Homo sapiens: one gene and its partners. The protein of the gene in region 4 purifies or fractionates together with the protein of the main gene of each other region. This does not show direct contact. Each region holds a gene or a part of one and is shown on either strand. Other genes may lie near its edges. The genes, in order: VPS13C, SLC27A4, VPS13A and UBXN4.

Region 1 (7,037 bases), on a different chromosome or scaffold from region 4:
CCTGCTGTCAAAAAACTTAATGACATATGCGGGAGAAAGAAAGAAATCAGTGATTACAGCTTTCAGTGCTAGAGGCATGGCCAAGATGCAGTTGGGAGCACAGGCATGGGGCCTTTAATTCAGACCAGGACATCAGGGAAAGCTGTGTAGAAGCAGGACTATTTGATTTGAGTTTTGAAGGGAGATTAAATAGATGGGGAGCATGGAAAGGTTTATCCAGACAGAACTGATAATATGCACAAAGGCAGAGGTGTGAAAAAATCCTTTAAGATTTAGAGGGGTGGCCGGGCGCGGTGGCCTCACGCCTGTAATCCCAGCACTTTGGGAGGCCGAGGCGGGCGGATCACGAGGTCAGGAGATCGAGACCATCCCGGCTAAAACGGTGAAACCCCGTCTCTACTAAAAAATACAAAAAATTAGCCGGGCGTAGTGGCGGGCGCCTGTAGTCCCAGCTACTTGGGAGGCTGAGGCAGGAGAATGGCGTGAACCCGGGAGGCGGAGCTTGCAGTGAGCCGAGATCCCGCCACTGCACTCCAGCCTGGGCGACAGAGCGAGACTCCGTCTCAAAAAAAAAAAAAAAAAAAAAAGATTTAGAGGGGTGGTCACATATGGCTGGAGAGAATGGTGTGGTGGCGTTGTAAGACTGGAAGCATTAATTATAAGTGACATTAATAAGACACGGAAAAAAAGTTGACAAGTAAGTTAGGAAAACAATACATACTAGATCCTGCTTTTGATGATATAATTATATCCCTTTACATTTTAAGTAAGGATTGTGAGAAGTGAACAATAAAGGAATACAGTTAACTTATTTAACCTAGTATTTCTCAAACTTTGGGAGAATCCTGGCTAGCTGGTTGAATAGGCACTAGGCCACAAAGAGCTCTGCACATTAAGTTAAAGAGAGTTTCAATTTTATCTTGTGGGATAAAAAAATTATGGGAAGTTGATGAAGATTTTAAACATAAGAATGTCATACTCAGATTTGGTTTGTAGAAAAATTATGCTGGTGGCAGTGTGGAGTGTAGGCTGAGAGGGCGTTGGCCGTAGAAGATGTCATCAGTGTAGAACTAAGGCACAGTAATAGGAAGTGAGGGAAGTGAGCAAAGAAAGGCACTGTCCAAAGATAATAAGAGGTAGGATTTATAGATCTTGGGGTAAGTCAAAGGAGAGCTGTGATTTTGAGTCTTCCAGCTTTAATAAGGCAAATGTATATCTTTTTCTTCCTTTTTTTTTTTTTCAGAAGATCTTGTTGCATACCGATATTTATGTGTATCTTGACAAGGATCACACACTTTGGCTTAGTTAATGTAGCTGTTTTTAAAATGAAGAATTTGTTTACATTGCTATACTTGTCTATTCACATAACACTGTTTTGCTCTGAATTGATCAGCTTAACTTTAGATTTTGACTACTGACATATAACATTAGTTATTTAATTCCAGATAACCTGAGTAGAAGTCAGTGTTGCATGATTACTTGGCTTGACACATAATTTTGTGTTCTCTCTTGTTTTTCTTGGTTACGAATTTATTCAAAATTTAAATTAGTTACTTTAATTTAAAATTAAAATTTAATTTAAAAATGTCACTTATAATTAATGTATGTCACTTAAAATCATGTATGTATATATTCTCATCTGGGAAAGAATTTATTATAAATATTTTTCTGCTTTCTTTTTTAAAGATTTCACCCATAATTCTTAATACTGTGTTGACAATCATGGCTGCATTGTCTCCAAAAACAAAAGAAGATGGATCCAAAGATACGTCTAAGGAAATGGAAAATCTTTGGGGTATCAAATCGATTAATGATTATAACACTTGGTTTCTTGGTGTTGACACGGCAACAGAAATAACGGAAAGCTTCAAAGGCATTGAACATTCACTGATAGAGGAAAATTGTGGTGTTGTTGTAGAATCCATTCAAGTTACCTTAGAATGTGGCCTTGGACATCGAACTGTACCTTTATTATTGGCAGAGTCTAAGTTTTCAGGAAATATTAAAAATTGGACTTCTCTAATGGCTGCTGTTGCTGACGTGACACTACAGGTATGGCCACATCACTTAATACCTTCAGAGACTTCTTGAAAGTGCGATTTTGGAATTAAGATATACACTTTTCTTGTTTGTGCATGGCCACTATGAGTACATATGTGAATAGATAGTGTGTTCTGACATTTAATTTGTCGATGTATTGTTTTTTGATAATTATTTTTTAAAGATTGATTTGCTAAATAATTTATGACAATAGAGTAAGAGAGTAAAGGAAAATACACTCTATATATTGTTAGATGGGTTTTGAAAATGGCTAATGATATATAACATTGATTACTTAATAATTTCCCTATTGGTTACAGAAATATGTAATTAAAGCCAAAGGACTGTCTTATAATTTTGTGTGTATCTTTCCAGGTGCACTATTACAATGAGATCCATGCTGTCTGGGAGCCACTGATTGAGAGAGTGGAGGGGAAGAGACAATGGAATTTAAGGCTTGATGTAAGGAAATCTTAAAATATCTTTGGATAGAATGATACTATGCATATTCATTCATAGTTTTTATTTCAGTGATTCTTAAGATGTGGTCTAGGATCCTTGAAGCCCTTTTAAGGGCTCTGTCCATGAGGTCAGAACTCTTTTCATATGTCATTTTCATTCTCATTCTCTCACGAGTGTATAGTGGAGTTTTCCAGAGACTAATGAAGGTGATACTGCAACAGATTGAATGCAGAACAGAAACGAGAATTTATCTGTCTTCCCTTAAGGCAGGCAGTAAAGAGATATATGTGTATGTTCCTCTTCTCACTGTATTTTTAAAATAGTTATTTTTGATTAAAAATGTTATTTATATTAGCATGTAATTTTTATTTTTAAATGAATTTTTAATTTTTTTTCAGTTTTAATTGTTAATAGAGTACATATTGGTAGATAAAACATAAATGAAGCTCTTTAGTATACTCAGTGATTTTTAAGGGTGAGACCAGAATATTTGAGAATTGTTAATGAACTCTTGTGTGTTATCTTTTTATGTTGTTTTTTGAGAACACCTCAGAAACCTAGATACTGAAGCACATTTTTCTTGATTAAAAGGAACTTGAGTCATATATTGTTAAGAAATTGTCGTAGCATACTTCTTTGGGGCAGCCTTACTAAGGAGTCAGGCACTGAAACTGACTCCACATATTCTTTTGTTAAAGATGAGTCACTTAACCTGTGTTCCAATTTCCTCTCAATAAAGAAGTAATATTTTTCTGACCTGCCTTTCTCTGGCATAGGGAGGCTAACAAAGAATGTTTTACAAGGCTTTTGAAATACTACTAGAACAGAAGCTGATGGAATCTGATGGCTAGTTAAGTGTTTATTATATTAATATTACTTATTTGAAGGTGTTATTGGTTTAAAAAATAGAAGGAGAGAAACATTTCCAGGTGGCACCTCTAATAGGGATCAGTTTAGACTTCAGGGTCCTCTTAGATTGCTCGTCAACACATAATCACCAGTTGGGTGACACTGAATAAATAGCTATGCTCTGAGGAATGCATAAGAGACAAATATTGTAGCTGGCTTTGAGTAATTTCATGGCGTAATTCTAAACTTTTCCCCATGCTTGGACTATACCCTGAAAGAATGAATGCTGAACTCCATGAAATCAAAGTGAAGCATGGTATATTTTTGAAAATAAGACTTTTGCGAAGCATTACTATAAAGTGATCAGTTTAGGAGAACTGAACTCCAGCATTTTTATTTTATTATCAACTGGCTAATAATTTAAATTTGCTGTGTTATTTTTCTTCATAGGTAAAGAAGAACCCAGTTCAGGATAAAAGTTTGCTGCCAGGAGATGATTTTATTCCTGAGCCACAAATGGCAATTCATATTTCTTCAGGAAATACAATGAATATAACAATATCCAAAAGTTGTCTTAATGTTTTCAACAATTTAGCAAAAGTATGTCTGAATCTTGCTTAGAATATTTCAAGTGGAATTTTAAAATGAAACATATAATTTTTTTGTCATCAAAATTAGTTTCCAAAAAATGTGTAATTATGGTATAGGTTTTGGGAAGAATGTATGTTTTTCAAAAATTTTACTGTGATGATATGTTCCTTTTCAGGGTTTTTCAGAGGGCACTGCTTCTACTTTTGACTACTCTTTAAAGGACAGAGCTCCTTTTACGGTAAAAAATGCTGTAGGTGTTCCCATTAAGGTGAAGCCCAATTGTAATCTCAGAGTAATGGGCTTCCCTGAGAAAAGTGATATTTTTGATGTTGATGCTGGCCAGAATTTGGAACTGGAGTATGCCAGCATGGTACCTTCAAGTCAAGGGAACCTATCTATATTGAGCCGTCAAGAAAGCTCCTTCTTCACTCTGACCATTGGTAGGCTATATTTGTTTTCCTTAAGGGTATCTTAGCAGTTGTTGGTGTGGGCTTATTTTTGATAAAATGTGAAAAAACATTTTGCTGCAGATATCTGGAGATACAACATTTGAAACATATAATTGCTAACCTCTTGTTTCTTGTTTTCTAAACTTGAGAAAATTAAACTTTATTGATTTAAGAAAACTTTACAAAACTAGATTATTTTTGTGCCCTTAAATAATGTATATATTATATAATATATATAAATATTATATATATAATGTGTTTTTAAAAGGATAGGAGTTTACTGAGGAGAGAAAATAGCTATATTCAGAAGTCTTACAGTGTTGACACTGTGACAAAGAAAAAGATTGTTGCTATATGATTGAGAGAATAAGAAATAAGTTGGATTTTGTTTTTATATTCAAAACCCCAAGCAAAACTGTTTTCAGCCAAAAATTTTATAACAGTAACTGGTCTTCTTTTTAAGTTTATGTCTTAGAAAAGCAATTTGTGGTGATCATTTCTAGTGATGAGGAAAAATACTCTTCATTATTTTGAGGTACTAATGATTGTTATAGAGAAACATTGGCAAATTAATATTTGGAATTCTTTTCACTTATGCACTGCCTTAGTACCTCATGGATATACAGAAGTTGCAAATATCCCTGTGGCCAGACCTGGACGGCGATTGTATAATGTACGGAATCCCAATGCCAGTCATTCTGACTCTGTCTTGGTACAAATTGATGCAACTGAAGGGAATAAAGTAATTACCCTTCGCTCTCCTCTACAGGTAATACTTCAAAGTTAATTGTATCCCTTTCAGTGTACCAAGAAATGGTTAAATCATTTAGCTGAATATAGGAATACAGTAAAACTTCATCAGGTCAATTCTGATTATTCAGAAATAAATAGTAATTATTCAGAAATAAATAGTAACAGAAATGGCTTCTATTTACTGTCCAGCTTGCTCTGATAATATTTATTTTAAATGTCTGTAGTTTTGTTTACTTAAAGCTCATTTTTGTTTTCTGTCTTTTAAGACAAATGCAAAATTAATAAAGCTCTTTTGGTATATTCCTTTAAATATTCAGAACCGAGGATTATTGTAATTGTAGTTAGGAAACATTCCATTCTCTTTGTATGTCACTTGGATTATATTTTTCAAGATATGTATGAAGGCATATTGGAATGATCTATCCCTCTGAAAAACATTTTAGCATCTTAATCTGTGTAAATATTTTTTCTACTTTTAAGGTTTTATCCAACATTTTTCTTTTTCTGTGTATTACTACAGGTTTCAGCATATGGTCAACAAAAGAACATTTTTTTTCCTACCTGTAACATCAGATACAAATGAAAAGGTTTCAAATTTTGGACATTGTTATCTTATAGTTTGTTATTTGCTCCAATGCGTAACAGACTGATGTCAAGAAAAGAATTGTACTATTTTTCTCATGATTTTTTGCTATCCATTTCTGTTTAGTTGTTATACATGATACATTGAGAAAAGATTGTCATGGAGAAAAAATGGCTTAAATCTTCAGAGAATAATACATATTTGAAAGATAATATAGACTAATACTAAACATAAGCTTATAATATATGGAGCATTTGAATATCTCAGTTTTCAACTGACACTTAAACATTAAATTTAATATATATAGCACTTAAATACCCTAAAATTTTTCAATTGCCAATAAAAATATCTTCCAATACTGAGTTTGAAATTTTTTAGATCTAAAAGTATTTGTTTGTGGCTCTCATTTTTTCTTTCGAACTTACATATCTTTTAAAAAACTTGTATTTTTTTTTGTCCAACAGATCAAAAACCATTTCTCCATTGCATTTATCATCTATAAATTTGTTAAGAATGTTAAGCTATTGGAGCGCATTGGGATAGCCAGACCTGAAGAGGAGTTCCATGTTCCTTTAGATTCATATAGGTAGATACTTCTTAAATGTATTAAACTTTAAATGTATTGAGTTGGGGATTTATATTCTGGCAAATAACTTCATATTTTTATTAACTAAAGATCAGTAAAAGCCAGTTTTAAGACATAATTTAGTCTTCCATTGAGAAATACATTTATATTATCATTGAATTTATCAGGTGAAAATTCCTGACTGTATATTTGATGTCAGGATTTTTCTGACTATTTTTATTAGATTGCCTTTGTATTTGAAATGAAAATTTTTTTAAGTTGTCTTGTTTACAGAGTTGTTTTTTGTTTGTTTGTTCTTTTCAGAAAGTCCTCCGTAAGTTAGCTATGTGATTTTGGGTGAATTTCCTAACCTTTTTTTTAGCCCTGGTTTCCTCATCTGTATATCTGTAAAAACAGGAATAATAGCACCTATCTTGTAGAGTTGTCAGGAAGATTTAATGAGATGCTTTTTTTTAAGTTGTGGATCAAAACTTTATTGTCACTGTTTCCTCTTTCTGCAGATGTCAATTGTTTATCCAGCCAGCTGGAATCTTAGAGCATCAGTACAAAGAATCTACCACTTATATTTCCTGGAAGGAAGAACTTCATAGGAGCAGGGAAGTCAGATGCATGTTGCAGTGTCCATCAGTAGAAGTCAGCTTCTTACCTCTCATAGTGAATACAGTTGCTCTGCCTGATGAATTGAGCTACATATGTACACATGGGGAAGACTGGGATGTAGCTT
Region 2 (7,004 bases), on a different chromosome or scaffold from region 4:
TCAAATGTCACAGCAGAGATGTCTTCCTGGGCTTCCTGCCATCTAAAGCAGTCCCTAGTCCCCCTCTGCCTCTCTCCATGCTATCATCTTCTGTTTATTATTATTTATTTTTTGAGATGGGGTCTCATTCTGTCACCCAGGCTGGAGTGCAGTGCCACTATGACGGCTCACTACAGCCTCGACCTCCTGGGCTCCAGGATCCTCTTGTTTTAGCTTCCCTAGTAGCTGGGCCTATGGATGCATGCCACCACGCCTAGCTAAGTTTTTTTTGTTTGTTTTGTTTTTTTTTGTTTTTTTGTTTTGAGATGGAGTCTCGCTCTGTCACCCAGGCTGGAGTGCAATGGCGTGATCTCAGCTTACTGCAACCTCCCTTTCCCAGGGTCAAGCAATTCTCCTGCCTCAGCCTCCCAAGTAGGTGGGATTACAGGGGTGCACCACCATGTCCAGCTAATTTTTATTTTTAGTAGAGACGGGGTTTCACCATGTTGACCAGGCTGGTCTCGAAATCCTGACCTCAGGTGATCTGCCCACTTTGGCATCCCAAAGTGCTAGGATTACATGCCTGAGCCACCGTGCCCAGTCAAGTGGTTTCTTTTTTTTTTTTTTTTTTTTGGCGGGGGGAGTGGATGGAGTCTCACTCTGTCGCCCAGGCTGGAGTGCAATGGCGTGATCTCGGCTCACTGCAACCTCCCACCTACTGGGTTCAGGCGATTCTCCTGCCTCAGCCTCCCGAGTAGCTGGGATTACAGGTGCCTGCCACCACGCCCGGCTGATTTTTTTTTTAATTGTTAGTAGAGATGTGGTTTCACCATGTTGGTCAGGCTGGTCTCAAACTCCTGATCTTGTGATCCCCCCGCCTCAGCCTCCCAAAGTGCTGGGATTACAGGTGTGGGCCACCGGGCCCGGCTTTTTTTTTTTTTTTTTCTTTTGTAGAGACAGGGTCTTGCTATGTTGGCTCGGCTGGTCTTGAACTCCTGGCCTCAAGCCATCTTCCTGCCTTGACCTCCCAAAGTGCTGGTATTCCAGATATGAGCCACTGCACTATGCCCTTATTTTCTTTAGAGCATTCACCACTCTGAAATTATTTTGTTGGTAGAGCTTGGCGGGGGGTGGCTCATGCCTGGAGTCCCAGCACTTTGGGAGGCCTGGGGGGGCAGATGACTTGAGCTCAAGAGTTCCAGACTAGCCTGAACAACATGATGAAACCTCGTCTCTACTAAAAATACAAAAAATTAGCCAGGTGTGGTGGCGCACACCTGTAGCCCTAGCTACCCAGGAGGCTGAGGTAGCAGGAGCACCTGAGCCCAGGAGGTGAAGGCTGCAGTCAGCTGTGATTGTCTGGGCAACAGGAGTGAGACCCCATCTCAAAAAAAAAAAATTAAAAAATTTTAATGACAATACTGTGATGAGCGTGACACCAGCACAGTGAGCACTGAGTGAGGGATGACCTATTCCATCTCACTTCCACCTGTCCTCTGTGCGGCCAGCTAGACTGTAAGCAACTGAAAGGCAGGCTGTCCTGTTCTGTGTTGTCTTGCTTCTCCCCCTCAGGCCTGATCCAATGTCCGGTGGTACTGCTTTGGTTTCTCCAGTGTGACGAGCCTGACTGAAGGAGAGCAGGTGGCTGGTCACCAGCATCCTCCCGCTAACTCTCACCTGCCCACTTGCATATGACCTCAGTAGTTGATGTGGAAGTACTCATGATTATACTCACGAATCCTGGTGTGCATAAGGTCAGAGCCTCCAATTCACTCTCCCTTTCATTCATTCAAGAAATGTTGTGCCAGGCGCAGTGGCTCATGCCTGTAATCCCAACACTTTGGGAGGCTGAGGCGGGTGGATCACGAGGTCAGGAGATCGAGACCATCCTGGCTGACACGGTGAAACCCTGTCTCTACTAAAAAAAATACAAAAAAATTAGCTGGGCCTGGTGGCGGGCGCCTGTAGTCCCAGCTACTCGGGAGGCTGAGGCAGGAGAATGGCGTGAACCTGGGAGGCGGAGCTTGCAGTGAGCCGAGATCGCGCCACTGCACTCCAGCCTGGGCGACAGAGCAAGACTCCGTCTCGGAAAAAAAAAAAAAATACTCCCCACAAATCTCCACGCTGACCCTGTGAGGTATTATTAATTAGTATGTCCCATTTTTTATATGTAAGAACAAAATGAATCTTGACCTTTCAGCTGAGAAGGCGAACTCAATGCTCATGCCCATACCACTGCACATTCTGCCTCCTGATGGTGATACCCATGAAGGATGTGGTGCTGGAATTTACTCAAGTCCCCAAAAGGAGGCACCCTATATTCCAGAAGAAATAGGTCCAAATCCTTATCAGACCAAAATTTCATCTTTATTTTTATTATTATTAGTTTTCTGAGACAGGCTCTCACTGCTCTGTTGCTCAGGCTGGAGTGCAGTGGCCCAATCTCGGCTCACTGCAACCTTTGCCTCCCGGGTTCAGTGATTCTCTTGCCTCAGCTCCTGAGTAGCTAGGATTACAGACGTGCACCACCACGCTCGGCTAAGTTTTGTATTTTTAATAGAGACAGGGTTTCGCCCTGTTGGCCAGACTGGTCTCGAACTCCTGACGTCATGTGATCTGCCCACCTCAACCTCCCAAAGTGCTGGGATTACAGGCATGAGCCACTGTGCCCAGCTTATTTTTATTTTTTGAGACACGGTCTTACTTTGTTGCCCAGGGTGGAGTTTAGTGGTGCAATCACAGCTCACTGCAGCCCCAAGTTCCAGAGCTCAAGCAATCCTCCCACCTCATCTTCCTGAGTAGCTGGGAGTACAAGCAAGAGCTACCTGGCTAATTTTTTTTTTTTTCCTGTAGAGGCAGAGTCTCACTATGTTGCCCAGGCTGGTCTTGAACTCCTGGCTGAAGTGATCCTCCTGCCTCAGCCTCCAAAAGTGCTGGGATTACAAGCTTGAGCCACCACGCCAGTCCCAGAATCTTTTTTTTTTTTTTTTTTTTTTTTTTTTTTGAGATGGAGACTTGCTCTGTCGCCCAGGCTGGAGTGCAGTGGCGCAACCTCGGCTTACTGCGACTTCCGCCTCCCAGGTTCAAGCAATTCTCCTGCCTCAGCCTCCCAGGGATCTATTAATGTTTAAGGACAAGTGGCAACTGTGGATGCCCAACATGGTTACTTAACAAGAAACCAATTTTTCAGAGGCCAAGAGTCCCAACAGGGCCGAGAATCTGGCCACTCGCCTATGGCTCTGGAGGTGGCATGACAAATAAGGGTGGCATGACAAATATAGGTTAACTGATTTGTTGCAGGGACCAGAGATCATAGATGGTGAAGTTAACTAAGGGCCTCCAAATCCGTGTCCTTTGTGCCAACAGGTGTGCCAGGCTGCTCACAAGACACCATGGTACGAGAAAGGATTTCTCGTAGTCACCTAGACACCAGGTTTATGGCTGTGTCGCAGCAAAGTTGGGTGTGACTTATGATTTTCGTTCTGAACCTTATTTGTTAGATAGGTCCTGGAGTCCTTAAAACACGCAGGTGAAAGTCAGGGAGTAGGAGCCATCAAAATTCGACTCTGGTGGGACTCGAACCCACAACCTTTGAATGACCACACTAGGCTCAGCTAGAAGTCCAATGCGCTATCCATTGCGCCACAGAGCCGGCTGCGGAACCCGGCCGCCCCGCTCACCTCTGCCTGAAACCGCCCTCTTAGCGAGCTTCTAGGTGTGGTGCTGGGTGTTTGCTGAACTCGGCCGGGGCCCGAGAGCGTGCTCCGGGTTTTCGGCTGTGGTGTGGACTGGGGTGCTCTTCCTACATCCGGGCGCTGGGGACAGCAGGGGGCAAGGGCCGGGGTCGGCAGGGAGGAAGGGCCGGGGTGAAGCCCGCCTGTCTCCTCGCGGACTCGGGGGTCTCCTCGGCTGGGTGGGGCCGCGCGGCGTGGACTACAACTCCCAGCGTGCCGCGCGGCGGCGCCGCCCGAAGCCGTTGCGCGAGCAGGGCGGGCTGGGGCCGAGCGGCGTCAGGCGCGCTGGGGCTGCGCTGCGCCGCCGGCTCTGTGGCTTGCCGGCTTCGGGGAAGGTGCGGCAGGCGGTGCTGCGGCCTGGCACAGCAGGTTTGGGGTGCGGGAGGCGGGCGGGGTAGGAGCGCGGCGGGCGGGGCCGGGCGGCGGGCGGGGCTGGCGGGGCGGCCGGGCCATGCAGGGCGCAGAGCCGGCTAAACCCTGCTGAGACCCGGCTCCGTGCGTCCAGGGGCGGCTAATGCCCCTCACGCTGTCTACGCTGCTGCAACCGGGCCGCATCTGGACGGGGCGCCGCGCGGCGGAGCCGACGCCGGGTGAGCATAGACCGGGCTGGTGGGTTCCCGGGTGGGGACATGTGCCAGGCCGAGTCGGGCGAGGTGGCGGTGCGGACCCCAGGTGGGGGGCGCGCCCTGCGGCGCTATTTCCCCGACAGACGCACTGTTACCTTGCTGTCTAGGGGCGAGGGCGGCACGCGTGACCCGGGACAGGGGCCCGAGGGAACTAGTCACCCTCTTCTGGCCTCTTCTTGCCCCAGCCTTCCAGGACAGGTTCCTGCCCCTCTGCTATGGCGGGCTATGGGAGGCCAGAGATCTGAGGACCCTGGACCCTGGCGTTGGGGTTGAGGACTCTGGTTCAGTTCCCCCGCCCCCGGCTTTTGCTTTTCGCGAGGGGGAGGGGGAGATGGTCTCCCAGGGCTTCTTGTGGTCCAGACCATTCCCTTTTCCTGGCTTGGAGGCTCTCAGGCCATTTCACATTTGTGACCTTCATCTACTCCCAAGAACAGGAAAACTCGGAGAAAAACAGTCCCATCAGATGTCCCCTTGATCGAGTCCTCAAAGCTCCAGGAATAGAACCCAAGAGTCCTAGCTCAACCCAGCCCCTGAAGCACAGTCAAGTCATTCGCCTTCCCCTAAGCCCTAGACCCCAAAGATTCATCCGAGTGGCTGTGTGTGTCTGTGTGATGGGTGGTGGTGTCTTCAAGGTCCTCCTCGCCTCCCTCAATCAGCTTTGCCCCCTGGGCGGTCACCTTTCAAGCACTTCCAGGCTCTAACTCGTTTTCTGGGTCGCCCTCTATAGACCAACAGACGCACTGCGATACCTGAGTCTATGGGCAGGGACCAAGCAGGGCTCCTTTTCCAGGGAGCTGCCCCTTTGACTTGGCCTGGTCATCCACAGAACCTCCCTGGGTTCTGGGTGGGGAGTCGAGCCAGAGACTTTTTTTTTCTTTTTTTGAGACGGAGTCTCGCTCTGTCTCCCAGGCTGGAGTGCAGTGGCACAATCTCGGCTCAATGGAACCTCCGCCTCCCGGGTTCAAGCAATTCTTCTGCCTCAGCCTCCTGAGTAGCTGGGGTTACAGGTGTGTGCCACCATGCCTGGCTAATTTTTGTATTTTTAGTAGAGACAGGGTTTCACCATCTTGGTCAGGGTGGTCTCGAACTCCTGACGTCATGATCCGCCTGCCTCGGCCTCCCAAAGTGCTGGGATTACAGGTGTGAGCCACCACTGCCAGCGAGCCAGAGGCTCTTAAGTCAGTACCCACCCCCAGGCCATCCGGTTTTAGGGACCCTGGATGTCAGAAGAGTGAACTGTCATGTTTTGGCTAGAAAAGCCTCTTAGAACACGTCTCAGGACAACTCGGTGGTGGCCACTGCGCAGACCAGACTTCGCTCGTTCTCGCATGCCTCGCTCCGCTTTTCCTCCGCAACCATGTCTGACAAACCCGATATGGCTGAGATTGAGAAATTCGATAAGTCGAAACTGAAGAAGACAGAGATGCAAGAGAAAAATCCACTGCCTTCCAAAGAAACGATTGAACAGGAGAAGCAAGCAAGCGAATCGTAATGAGGCGTGCACCGCCAATATGCATTGTACATTCCACAAGTATTGCCTTCTTATTTTACTTCTTTTAGCTGTTTAACTTTGTAAGATGCAAAGAGGTTGGATCAAGTTTAAATGACTATGCTGCCCCTTTCACATCAAAGAACTACTGACAACGAAGGCTGCGCCTGCCTCTCCCATCTGTCTATCTGGCTGGCAGGGAAGGAAAGAACTTGCTTGTTGGTGAAGGAAGAAGTGGGGTGGGACGACAGTGAAATCTAGAGTAAAACCAGGCTGGCCCAAGGTGTCCTGCAGGCTGTAATGCAGTTTAATCAGAGTGCCATTTTTTTTTTTGTTCAAATGATTTTAATTATTGGAATGCACAGTTTTTTTAATATGCAAATAAAAAGTTTAAAAACTTAAAAAAAAAAAGAACACGTCTCACTACACCCATTGCACAGAGGGCAGATACTAAGGTCTAAAATGTGAAAAGGTCTTGCCCAAGGTCACTTGGAGAATGGTGGGCAGAGATGGGACTATGAGACGAGAACCAGCCTCCTGCTTCTCACTCTTGGAATTCCTCACCTCAAGTGCCAAGCCCCTAGCCTGCCCCTTCCAGGCCAAGCCTGGAAAGGGACCCCTGTGGTCAGTCACCCAACTCAGTATGGCTAAGCCTTACCACAGGCTGTCCCCTTGGGATCACAGTGGCCTGGCTGTCTGGGCTGGGAGGTAGGAGACCTGGAGGGTTGGGTGTTTGGGTCCACTAACTGCCCTGTGTCCGCAGGCCACAATGCTGCTTGGAGCCTCTCTGGTGGGGGTGCTGCTGTTCTCCAAGCTGGTGCTGAAACTGCCCTGGACCCAGGTGGGATTCTCCCTGTTGTTCCTCTACTTGGGATCTGGCGGCTGGCGCTTCATCCGGGTCTTCATCAAGACCATCAGGCGCGATATCTTGTGAGTACCTGGCCCAGCCTTTCCTGGGGTCTGCCACACTACAGTGAGCTTCTGGTCCCCCAAATCTCCCCAGGCCAGACCTCATGTTCTCTACCAGCACAGGGCAGCTGAGCTGAGTTCCAGAACAGCAGCCTCTGCTCCACACCCGTACCCTGGCAATAGTACCTGGTCCCTCCATCTCCAAGGTCAAAGTCTTCTCCCAGGGAATCTCCCTAACTTGAGGCTCCCAGGCCTTGGGCAGGCTTG
Region 3 (3,541 bases), on a different chromosome or scaffold from region 4:
TACTGGGGAAATGAGTCATGCGGAGTTTTCTAAGGTTAAGAGACAGAATGTCGGTGGTTAAGAATTCACTAGGTCGAGACAATCCTGGCCAACATGGTGAAACCCCATCTCTACTAAAAAAAAAAAAATACAAAAATTAGCTGGGCGTGGTGGCACACACCTGTAGTCCCAGCGACTCGGGAGGCTGAGGCAGGAAGATCACTTGAACCTGGGAGGTGAACGTTGCAGTGAGCCGAGATCGTGCCACTGCACTGCAGCCTGGTGACAGAGCAATACTGTCTGTCTCAAAAAAAAAAAAAAAAAGAGAATTTACTAGGTACTATACCACCCCAAGCTTTTAGTCAGCAATGATCATGCTGGGCTGGAATGTCGCCTGCTTTGACTGAAAAATCAGGACCTTGGGCAATCTGTTATTCACATTTGTTTCAGCCCCAAAGAGGGTGGAATTTATATAGGCAAGGGAAGGGTATTAATAATGTTTCTAGTTCTATCAAAAAACTAAAAACAGAAGCAGACCAAAGATCAGAAATCTTTATTTGACAAAGGTATACATGGTGAAAATGGGCAGTCATCTTACCATGCAATCCAAATCTACCAATACCAAGAAATGCTTATTGTTAAGAAAAAAAATCATTAGTGAGCATGGCCAACCAATTTTTAGAGAGAGGAATAAAAGAATAAGATTAGTTTCAAAAGGAAGAACTTCACTGTAAATATCTGTGTTTATAAATTATCTTAGAATACACAAAACCAAGGCAGAGGCTGTGTAACAGGCAACTGAGCCAAGCACACATAAAAGAGGGATGAGGAACAGAAAAGTGTAGGAAATCCTGCAGCGATGCAGAAATAGATATTTTTAAAATTATCATAATCAATGACCGTATTTTCATCAAAGAAAGAATAAGCATTCCAAAGCAGCACAGGCTATTTCATCAATTTAAAAAACTAGCAAGAGAAAGTATTTTTAAAGTGCACTTTTCCTGAAAAATTCATTTTTATATGTAATACACAGTCACATACAGAGATAATTATTTCTAAAATTCTGTAACAGTTTATCTGACCTTGTAACAAGTTCCAGATACCATTCCTAATAGTTTGTGTGGATATTAAATCATTGATACTGAAAATATTTCAGTGTAATCTATGCTACATTTTTACTTGAATGTTTTTCAGCCTAAGAACTGGGAACTTTTGAGTAACAAACTGAACACCGGAGGTATGACGGCATAACAGGAAATGTTGGGATTTTCCAACATGTTCTATTTTAATTATACTTCTGATTATTTGATATCTCATTATACCAATCTCACAGGGTTTCTTGTTACAAGGACTTCATTAGAAGGAATACATTATTAACATATCAGAGTAACACTAAATGAATAGTTCAATGACAGACAGGGATTTTCTATCATAGCAGTGTGATATCTATCATCATAGCAGGTGTTAAACTATAATATAAATTAATTTGTATTTGTATAAAGTAATAAAAACTTTAAAAATATACCCATATCAACCTAAAAAATTGAAGTTATATTTCTTGTATAGCTTTTTGGGTAACCAAAATAATTTTTTTTTTGAAAATGCCATAATGCTTTAAAAAAAGAACTAATCTGTAATTCTAAAGTAAAAAATTTTTTAAATGACATGGAAAAATTTACAAAAGAGGAAATATAAAGTAGAAAAAGGTTTCAATAAAAGAAACATGAGTGAGGTTTGTAATAGAGTAGGATTCTGCATCTTCTCAATGTGCTGGCCTTGCTTTTTGGATAGTCCTGAAACAAATACTACTTTAGACCAATTATGACAGTGGGAGAAAAGTTTGCTGTAACAGCCAGAGTGGCCAAAAATTGACAGTACAGATTACAAGAATCAAAATTTTAACCGACAAATCCTAGCTTGATTAGGTTGCCATTAACAATAAGGTATAATTTCAAAAGTATACTTCAAAGGACTAAGGAGGGTGAATGGGTTTCCTTTTAGAGTTGCGCTATACTGAAAAGCACCAAAAAAAATCAGATTGACTAAGTCTGTATTGAGTCCTGCATACAGAATGTAAGTTATTTACATTTTCTACTTGGATCTTAAAGAAATGAGGAAATCCACTGTTTTTAGTAAAAAGTCATTGATATTTGCATAGCACCCCCCAGACACTGAATATTTTGGCCCTACCAGAATGTGCCCTACGTATTAGCTCCCCATTTTTAAAGGCCTTTGCCACCTGTATGGTGAATCAGCCAAAAGGTAGATGGTGCAGATTCAACGGACTCAAAAGGACAATGTATGTCCCCAGTTCTATTATAGTAAAATGCTTAGTGGTAAAGAGGTTAAAATACATCTAGGTAAACAAAAGACTATGGCCTTTTTTGGGTGCTGTGTGTGGATCTAATTTTTCTATGCTTTTTCTGGTCCCACTGAATCATGTGAGGTTGCCCGATACACAGCAGAGAAGAAAAATATTTTAGAAACCAAGAGTGATTCCATCTTCTCACTCAAAAGAAGAAGTGCTAAGCATCTCTAGACTTCCTGAGTTGTGGATCTGCTGCTCCTTATCTAAGGTCAGGCTCCACACAATCCAGACTCTTCCAACAATCACTGGATGGCCGGTGCCTCCTGCAGCAGTCTTTCAAGCTTTCTTTTTTTAAATTGCATTTCATAACAGGAAACACTTTATATTGTGACCCAGTATACACAGTAAATAGAATATTTAGCTGAAACAGTATTTCAGGAACCAATACTTAACCATTTTATATGCTCTATTGTTCCTCTATTTTTTATTATTTCACGTTTAAAATATACTGGTCTTGAGCTGTTAAGTTGATTTCATGACCCACTAATGAGTTAGGACTTACAGTGTGGAAAAACAGCATCCCTGAGGATTTGGGTTGATCCTGACAAAAGGTAACAAGCAATGCCCTGGAAGCCGAAAAGATTCCTCTGAACTGTGTTGGCTGAGCCATGAAAGCATCCACTGTCAATGTATTTGGTACACACTTTGAGCTTCTACAGGCAAACTAATCAAGTATTTTGTCCCAATCTTTTTAATACAGAGGCCTACATGAGGGGGCACTTGGCATAGCCTGAAGGATCAACTAATACTGGCAAGTGATAACTGAATAATTTAGGTGCAGGAAATTCAGCACTGTGTAGAGTCCTTTTAATTTAATCTTTCTTTTTACCAGAGAGTAATACGATGCTACTATGTGGGATGTTTCTAAGAGATGAGCTAGGTGCATAGATATTCAATGGAACAATATTACCGCTATTACTATTGGAAGAAATGAGAGAGATAATTATGATAGAAAATATCACGTAAGTAAGTGTAAGAAAGATTTATTCACTTGGAGGCCACAGGATAGTTGCCTCCAAATGGACTAGGATTGTGGAGGAGAGGGGTAGGTAAGAACTGTCTACAGGTGGTAATGATTGTTTAGGGTCCAGATAACAACAACTCAGCCACACTAAACTGACCTTGGGATTTTTGTGAACACTAAAGGAAAAGCAGCAAATATGTATACTCTAAAAGGGAAGACACTGGAGAACT
Region 4 (7,037 bases):
GCAATCAGTCATCCCACTCAGTAGTATTAGGAAAGTTGTCATTAAGCATTGAGTAATTCCATTCAGCTTTCCACCACTGCTGTTCAAGCAGCTGCTGCCACCACTAGGCTGAGTCTAGGACAGACACTGCCAGTAGGGTTGAGACATCTGGGACCCTAATCACATGGTACAGTATAGGTGAGGGAGTGATGCACCAGCCTCACAAGAAGCAAGATTTATACTTTCAGCTACTTACGTGATATCACTGTTTAGATCCTCCCAGGATTCTCAAGCCTAAACGTGTAAGTGCTGCCTAAACCTGTGTTTCTCCCAGTGTTCTGCATCTGATTGGCACTACCATACATCTGGTTGGATAAACCATAAATATGAGAGTCATCTTTGACTCTTAACTCTTCAGTCTCTTCTTGAGCTCCGGATTGTTCACAACATTCCAAATCACATAGGCCTTTCCCTACACACGTATTCCTTCTGCGTGGTGAACTCTTCTGGCTGTTGGCATGGCTGAGCTCTCTTATCCTTTAGATTTTAGCTTAACTGTCACCTCAGAGAGGGCTTCTCTGACCATTATAAAGAGTTCTCTTGTTATTTTCTCTCATAGATTTCTTTTTAGTAGCATTTATTACTGTAATTACGTATAGTGTCTATTTGTTTAAAAATTTTGTATACCATTAGATTTTAAGCTCTGTTGAAGGCAGACAATGTCTCATTTGGTTTATATTTAGTATACAGTTCAATGCCTAGAACAAAATAAATGCAATAAAATAGTGAACATATAAAAGAATGAATGGAAAGGATTTCTCATTCTTCACAGCCTTCTCTGAGAAGGGTTCGTAGTAAGAATATTCTCATATACTTATTTTTCTTTGGTAGGTGAGTCATTTATTTGGAATCTTAATCTCTCCTCATCAGATGGTTTCTGAAGATGCATTTAGAGTGATCTCACTTGCAAATAGTAACTTCTCGTTATTTTGCATCTTCAACATCTAGGAGTCTGCTAATGGAGCATTCTTAATGGAGCATTTGGTCTGTGGATGCATTCTAGTCCCGTTTACTTTTTTTTTTTTTTTTTTTTTGAGATGGAGTCTCACTCTGCCGCCAGGCTGGAGTACAGTGGTGCAATCTCGGCTCACTACAACCTCCACTTCCCTGGTTCAAGCGATTCTCCTGCCTCAGCCTCCTGAGTAGCTGGGACTACAGGTGTGTGTCACCACGCACAGCTAATTTTTGTATTTTTAGTAGAGACGGGGTTTCACCGTGTTGGCCGGGATGATCTAGATCTCTTGACCTCGTGATCCGTCCGCCTAAGCCTCACAAAGTGAGCCACCGTGCCCGACCCCGTTTACTTTTCCATGGTCAAATTTCTCAAACTCCTATTTCTGGTATTCCTGAATCTCATCTCACAAAATATATGCAAATAAACAGCATTAGAGTCAATTATTATAGGCATGCCATCATACTTACTATATTAGGCATTTAGCTATTCCACAGAGTACTTATTGGGTGCCTACTATGTTTTGTAGAGATTTTAGTCTTGTCAGTAAATAAAATGGAACCAATCCTTGCCTTCATGGAACCTTCATTCTAGTTAGGGGAGACAGATACTAGTAAACATAATTAAAAATGCATAGTATATTGGAAGGTGAAAGTAATACAGAAAAACAACAGGAGATAAGGGAGCTTTGGGAATGTCTCAAGAGTGTAATTTTAAAGTAAGTGAGTAGGAGAGTTGTAATATTAAAGTGGGTGATTAAGTATCAGCTTTATTGAGCTGATATTTGAGCAAAGTTTTAAGGGAGTTGGAAGTTAACCATGTAGTTATCTGGGGGAAGAACATTCCAGGCAGAGGAAACAACTAGTACAAAGACCTTATGGCTGAAGTGTCTTTCATATTTGAGGAATAGAAGGAAAAAGAATAGCAAGAAAGGAAAAAGGAATGAGGTCACAGAGGTAGTTGGAGTCCTGATGTATGGGGCCTTCAAGCGCCCTGTAAGGACTTTGGCTTTTACTTTGAGGAAAATGGGGAGCCATTGTGTGATCTAAGCAGAGGGTTGATGTGATCTTTTTTTTTTTAGAGAAAGTTGCTGTGTTAAGAATAGACTTAGCAGGAAGACCAATTTGGAGGCTTTTACTAGGCTTCCAGGTGAGATGTGATAGCTTGGATCAGGGTAGTTAGTAGTGGAAGTGGTAAGAAAGTTACATTCTTGATTTATTTTGGAGCTGGAGTCAGTTACAATCAAGGAAAACTAGTTTTTTGGCCTGAGAACTGGAAGGATGGAGTTACCATAAACGAATAACTGCAATGAGGAAGGCCAAAGTGGATTAAATTGTCCTGGCCAACATAGTGAAACCCCATCTCTACTAAAAATACAAAAAAATTAGCTGGGCGTGGTGGCGGGCACCTGTAATTCCAGCTGCTCAGGAGGCTGAGGCAGGAGAATCGCTTGAACCCGGGAGGCAGAGATTGCAATGAGCCAAGATTGCACCATTGCACTACAACCTGAGCGACAAGAGTGAAACTCCATCTCAAAAAAAAAAAAAAAAAAAAAAAAGATACAGAACGTTTTCAGCATTCCAGAAGGCTCCTTCATGCTCTATCAAGGTAGCCACTATACTGAATTCTATCACCATAGATTAGTTATAGGTTAGCATACCTTTTATAATTAGCATACCTACAATAAAAGGCAAGTCTAAAATTGCAAACAGAATTGTACCTGCCTCTGTCTACCTTGGATTAATTTTGGAGTATAAATGCTGTGGAGTGGAGATGTTGAACTCAACAGAAAGGTGCCACATAAAGGACAGATATCAAACTTTTTATTTTTCTCTCTCTCTAGACGGTCTCACTGTGTCACCCAGGCTGGAGTGCAGTGGTGCAATCTCCGCTCACTGCAACTTCCACCTTCCGAGTGCAAGCAATTCTCCTGCCTCAGCCTCCTATGTAGGTGGGATTACAGGCATGCGCCACCACACCTGGCTAAGTAGAGATGGGGTTTTACCGTGTTGGCCAGTCTGGTCTCGAATTCCTGGCCTCAGGTGATCTACCCGCCTCAGCCTCCCAAAGTGCTGAGATTATAGGCGTGAGCCACCGAGCCCAGCCCACAACTTTTATTTTAATAAAATCTTATGTACAAAAGCCCAAATAGGCACTGCACCGATGACTGCTTATTATTGTGGTACTTTGCGCATCATAATTTAGATGGCTTCTTTTATGAAATATTTTGTATCATTTAAATAGTCCAGTGTAGTTTGTTTTCATTGCTCTTCATGATGTGAACTGTGTATGCAGTCACACTTTTCATTTAGTGGAAAATTCAGTTTTCAAATTTGGCAGAAAGTGGTATAGGTGGGATTATATTTTATTTGAGGTTTCCGTTTTCCAGGGGAAAAGAGTTTGCAATCAGCAGATCCCAGCCTGGTATAAGAATTTTTGAAATGTTTTACAGGTGATGATGAACAGTCTACACAGATGGCTGCAAGTTGGGAAGATGATAAAGTTACAGAAGCATCTTCAAACAGTTTTGTTGCTATTAAAATCGATACCAAAAGGTTTGTTTATGTTTTAATATTTTATTAATTTTAAAATTTATAAGTATTGTCTTTGATTTATAGTGATACTCTTGGACTAGAAGAATGTTGATGTTGGGCTGGGCACTCCCAGCACTTTGGGAGACTGAGGTGGGAGGATCGCTTGAGCCCAGGAGTTAGAGGCTAGCCTGGGCAACATAGTGAGACCCTGTCTCTATAAAAAATAATAATAAAATTAGGAGTGTGGTGTGTGCCTTTGGTCCTGCTACTTGGGAGGCTGAGGGGAGGATCACTTGATCCCTGAAGACTGGGGCTACAGTGAGCTGTGATCATGCCACTGCACTCCAGCCTGGGTGACAGAGTCAAACTCTGTCTCAAAAAAAAAAAAAAAAGAATATAGGCCAGGCACAGTGGCTCATGCCTGTAATCCCAGAACTTTGGGAGGCCAAGACAGGCGGATCACTTGAGGTCAGGAGTTTGAGACCAGTCTGGGCAACACAGTGAGACCTTGTCTCTACTAAAAAAAAAAATACAAAAATTAGCCGGGTGTGGTGGCACACGCCTGTAATCCCAGCTACTCGGGGGGCTGAGGTAAGAGGATCACTTGAGCCCAGGAGGTTGAAGTTGAGGCTGCAGTTAGCAGTGACTGCACCACTGCACTATAGCCTGGGCGAGAGAGCAAGACTATCTCAAAAAAAAAAAAAGAATGTTTATGCTATGTTTTTGGGTATCTAAGGCATATTAGGAACTTAAATTCTGACTGCCGTTTGCTAAATTCATCATGAATCCTGCTGAAAAAACTTTAAGCTTTCCTACTCTACCAAGCAGCCATCTAACATGTACCAGGAATGCAAAAAGAACAGTCATCTCCAGCTTCTAAAAACTTGGAAGTAATGGTAAATCATACATTGAATATCTCTGAGAGGTTGATCACTTACTGTCTTGAATCCTATTTTTGGGAATGGAGTCATTTAATCAGTGGAAATAAGGACATTTATAGGTTCCTCAAAGTACCTGATGTCCACAAGTCTATTTTGTTTCTCCGTTCCTCCTCCCCATCTTTTAAAAAAATTTTTGTTATAGGAAGTTTCAAACATATATGAAAGTAATGTAACAGTGTAATGTACCCCATGTACTTGTCTACTAGCTTTGGTAATTAACTCATGGTCAGTCTTGTTTCATCTATACCTCCACCCATTTCCACTCAATCCAAATAATTTTGAAACAAATCACAGTCACTGTATCACTTCATCTATAAATATTTTAGTATGTCTCTGAAGTATAAGTATTGTTAATTTTTTAAGCATAACTATAATATTAATACTTCACAAACTAATAATAATTCTTTAATATCAAATAACCAGCCAGTGTTCGACTTTTCAGTTGTCTCATCAAAGTCATAGTTTTATTACTTTATTGCAGTTTTTTAGTTCAAAATTATTCAAGGGCCACACATTAGGAAGCATTGATTTCTCTCAGTATGTAGGCTTCTCCTCCAACTCCCCTGCTCCTTGGAATTTATATTTTAAAGACACCAGGTCATTTGTTCTATACATTTGTTCTGTGGTTTCCTACAGTATGGATTTTGTTGACTGCAATGTGTTAGTGTCAAGTTGGTTCTTTCCTGTTTTCTGTATTGATAGGTAGATTCAGGTTTGTTTCCCCTCCCCTCATCCTGTCCTAAGACTACTTCATAGGTAGTGATGTGTCTTCCATCAGAAGACAGATAATACCCTGTTTTCTCTCTTTATGATGTTAGCAGCTATCAGTGATCATTACCTAAAAACATTATTATTTATTTTTTTCTTTGAAGCAGGATTTCACTATGTTGCCCAGGCTGGTCTTAAAATATTGGACTGAAGAGATCCTCCCATGTCAGCCTCCCAAATAGCTGTAGTTACAGGCATGCTTCACTGTGCCTGGTGCTGAAAACATTAATTCATTAGCACTTACAAAGTGGTATTCCTGTCTTTTTGATATTGATACTATCAGAATGAATAATGTGTTTGAAAATCACTGTCAAGATTAAAGCATTCAGAAATTTCTACTCGGGAGGCTGAGGCAGGAGAATGCTGTGAACCCGGGAGGCAGAGCTTGCAGTGAGCCGAGATTGCACCACTGCACTCCAGCCTGGGCAACAGAGCAAGACTCCGTCTCAAAAAAAATAAAAATAAAAATAAAAAAATAAATTCAGAAATTTGCCTATAAGTTTGTAAACTTTATGTAAAAATTTTCTGTGTTTACAAAAACATCAAGTCGTAGTATAGCCTGTCTCACAACAGTTACTGAACTATGTATTTACTGAGTAGTTTTTAAAAAACAGAATCTGTCAATTTAAGTATATCTTTTTTTTTTTATTGTTCATCACCTTCCTGAAGCACCTTTGAGAGTTGGCAGTGGCAAGAAGAATATAGGGATTTATAGGGAATGTGCAATACATGAGAATTCCAGAATTCTTGAGATTGTATACAGACTGATGTGTCTGGCTTTTTTTTTTTTTTTTTTTTTTTTTTTTTTTTTTTTTTGAGACGGAGTCTTGCTCTGTCGCCCAGGCTGGAGTGCAGTGGCGTGATCTCGGCTCACTGCAAGCTCCGCCTCCCGGGTTCACGCCATTCTCCTGCCTCAGCCTCCCGAGTAGCTGGGACTGCAGGTGCCCGCCACCATGCCCGGCTAATTTTTTTTTTTTTTTTGTATTTTTAGTAGAGACGGGGTTTCACCATGGTCTCGATCTCCTGACCTCGTGATCCGCCCGCCTCAGCCTCCCAAAGTGCTGGGATTACAGGTATGAGCCACTGTGCCCGGCCGTGTCTGGCATTTTTAAAAATAAATTACTTTTTTTTATTTTTTATTTTTTTTGAGACGGAGTCTCGCTCTGTAGCCCAGGCTGGAGTGCAGTAACGTGATCTTGGCTCACTGCAAGCTCCGCCTCCCGGGCTCACGGCATTCTCCTGCCTCAGCCTCCCAAGTAGCTGGGACTATAGGCGCCCACCACCATGCCTGGCTAATTTTTAAAATAGTTTTAGTAGAGATGGGGTTTCACAGTGTTAGCCAGGATGGTCTCGATCTCCTGACCTCGTGATCCACCTGCCCCGGCCTCCCAAAGTGCTGGGATTACAGGTGTGAGCCATCGTGCCTGGCCTTAAAAACAAATTTCTATTAGCAGATGCAGGGATACCTGCATATAGTGATGGTTCATGTTTGTTTCACTGTAGACTGCATGCTGATAGAATCTAGTGTGCCTTTAAATTATGGAAAATAAATTTTCTTCATTTCATAATAACTAAGTCACCCAATGTTTTGGGATCATTTTAGTGTGTATGTATTTTTGGAGATAGCGTGCATTGAAAATAGATTAGTAGGAAATGCGTAAAAAGTTTACAATTATTTCTGAAATGGTAGGATTTTGGGTAATTTTTTTTCTTGATTTTTTACTATGTTTTTAAATGTTTTTATGATAATAATGCTTTATATTTGAGGGAAAAAAGCAAATTCTAGTTCTTAGAAGCATTTGT

What was found.
Region 1: the proteins of UBXN4 (region 4) and VPS13C purify together in Homo sapiens (affinity purification with mass spectrometry; 4 studies listed by BioGRID and IntAct, with this or other methods). This does not show direct contact.
Region 2: the proteins of UBXN4 (region 4) and SLC27A4 purify together in Homo sapiens (affinity purification with mass spectrometry; 2 studies listed by BioGRID and IntAct, with this or other methods). This does not show direct contact.
Region 3: the proteins of UBXN4 (region 4) and VPS13A purify together in Homo sapiens (affinity purification with mass spectrometry; 4 studies listed by BioGRID and IntAct, with this or other methods). This does not show direct contact.

What each region holds. Positions count from the first base shown.
Region 1 is NC_000015.10:61,917,412-61,924,448, reverse strand, and holds part of VPS13C (intermembrane lipid transfer protein VPS13C), read left to right. Parts: intron 1-1,686; coding exon 1,687-2,052; intron 2,053-2,415; coding exon 2,416-2,502; intron 2,503-3,801; coding exon 3,802-3,951; intron 3,952-4,117; coding exon 4,118-4,382; intron 4,383-4,999; coding exon 5,000-5,160; intron 5,161-5,664; coding exon of another isoform or gene 5,665-5,727; exon of another isoform or gene 5,728-6,085; intron 6,086-6,191; coding exon 6,192-6,313; intron 6,314-6,813; coding exon 6,814-7,037. UniProt on the Homo sapiens protein: Mediates the transfer of lipids between membranes at organelle contact sites. Necessary for proper mitochondrial function and maintenance of mitochondrial transmembrane potential.
Region 2 is NC_000009.12:128,336,536-128,343,539, forward strand, and holds the start of SLC27A4 (long-chain fatty acid transport protein 4), read left to right. Parts: upstream 1-3,991; 5' UTR 3,992-4,303; intron 4,304-5,621; exon of another isoform or gene 5,622-5,830; coding exon of another isoform or gene 5,831-5,857; exon of another isoform or gene 5,858-6,225; intron 6,226-6,591; coding exon of another isoform or gene 6,592-6,597; coding exon 6,598-6,758; intron 6,759-7,004. UniProt on the Homo sapiens protein: Mediates the levels of long-chain fatty acids (LCFA) in the cell by facilitating their transport across cell membranes. Appears to be the principal fatty acid transporter in small intestinal enterocytes.
Region 3 is NC_000009.12:77,418,514-77,422,054, reverse strand, and holds the end of VPS13A (intermembrane lipid transfer protein VPS13A), read right to left. Parts: 3' UTR 518-3,541; downstream 1-517. UniProt on the Homo sapiens protein: Mediates the transfer of lipids between membranes at organelle contact sites. Binds phospholipids. Required for the formation or stabilization of ER-mitochondria contact sites which enable transfer of lipids between the ER and mitochondria.
Region 4 is NC_000002.12:135,744,824-135,751,860, forward strand, and holds part of UBXN4 (UBX domain-containing protein 4), read left to right. Parts: intron 1-3,443; coding exon 3,444-3,546; intron 3,547-7,037. UniProt on the Homo sapiens protein: Involved in endoplasmic reticulum-associated protein degradation (ERAD). Acts as a platform to recruit both UBQLN1 and VCP to the ER during ERAD.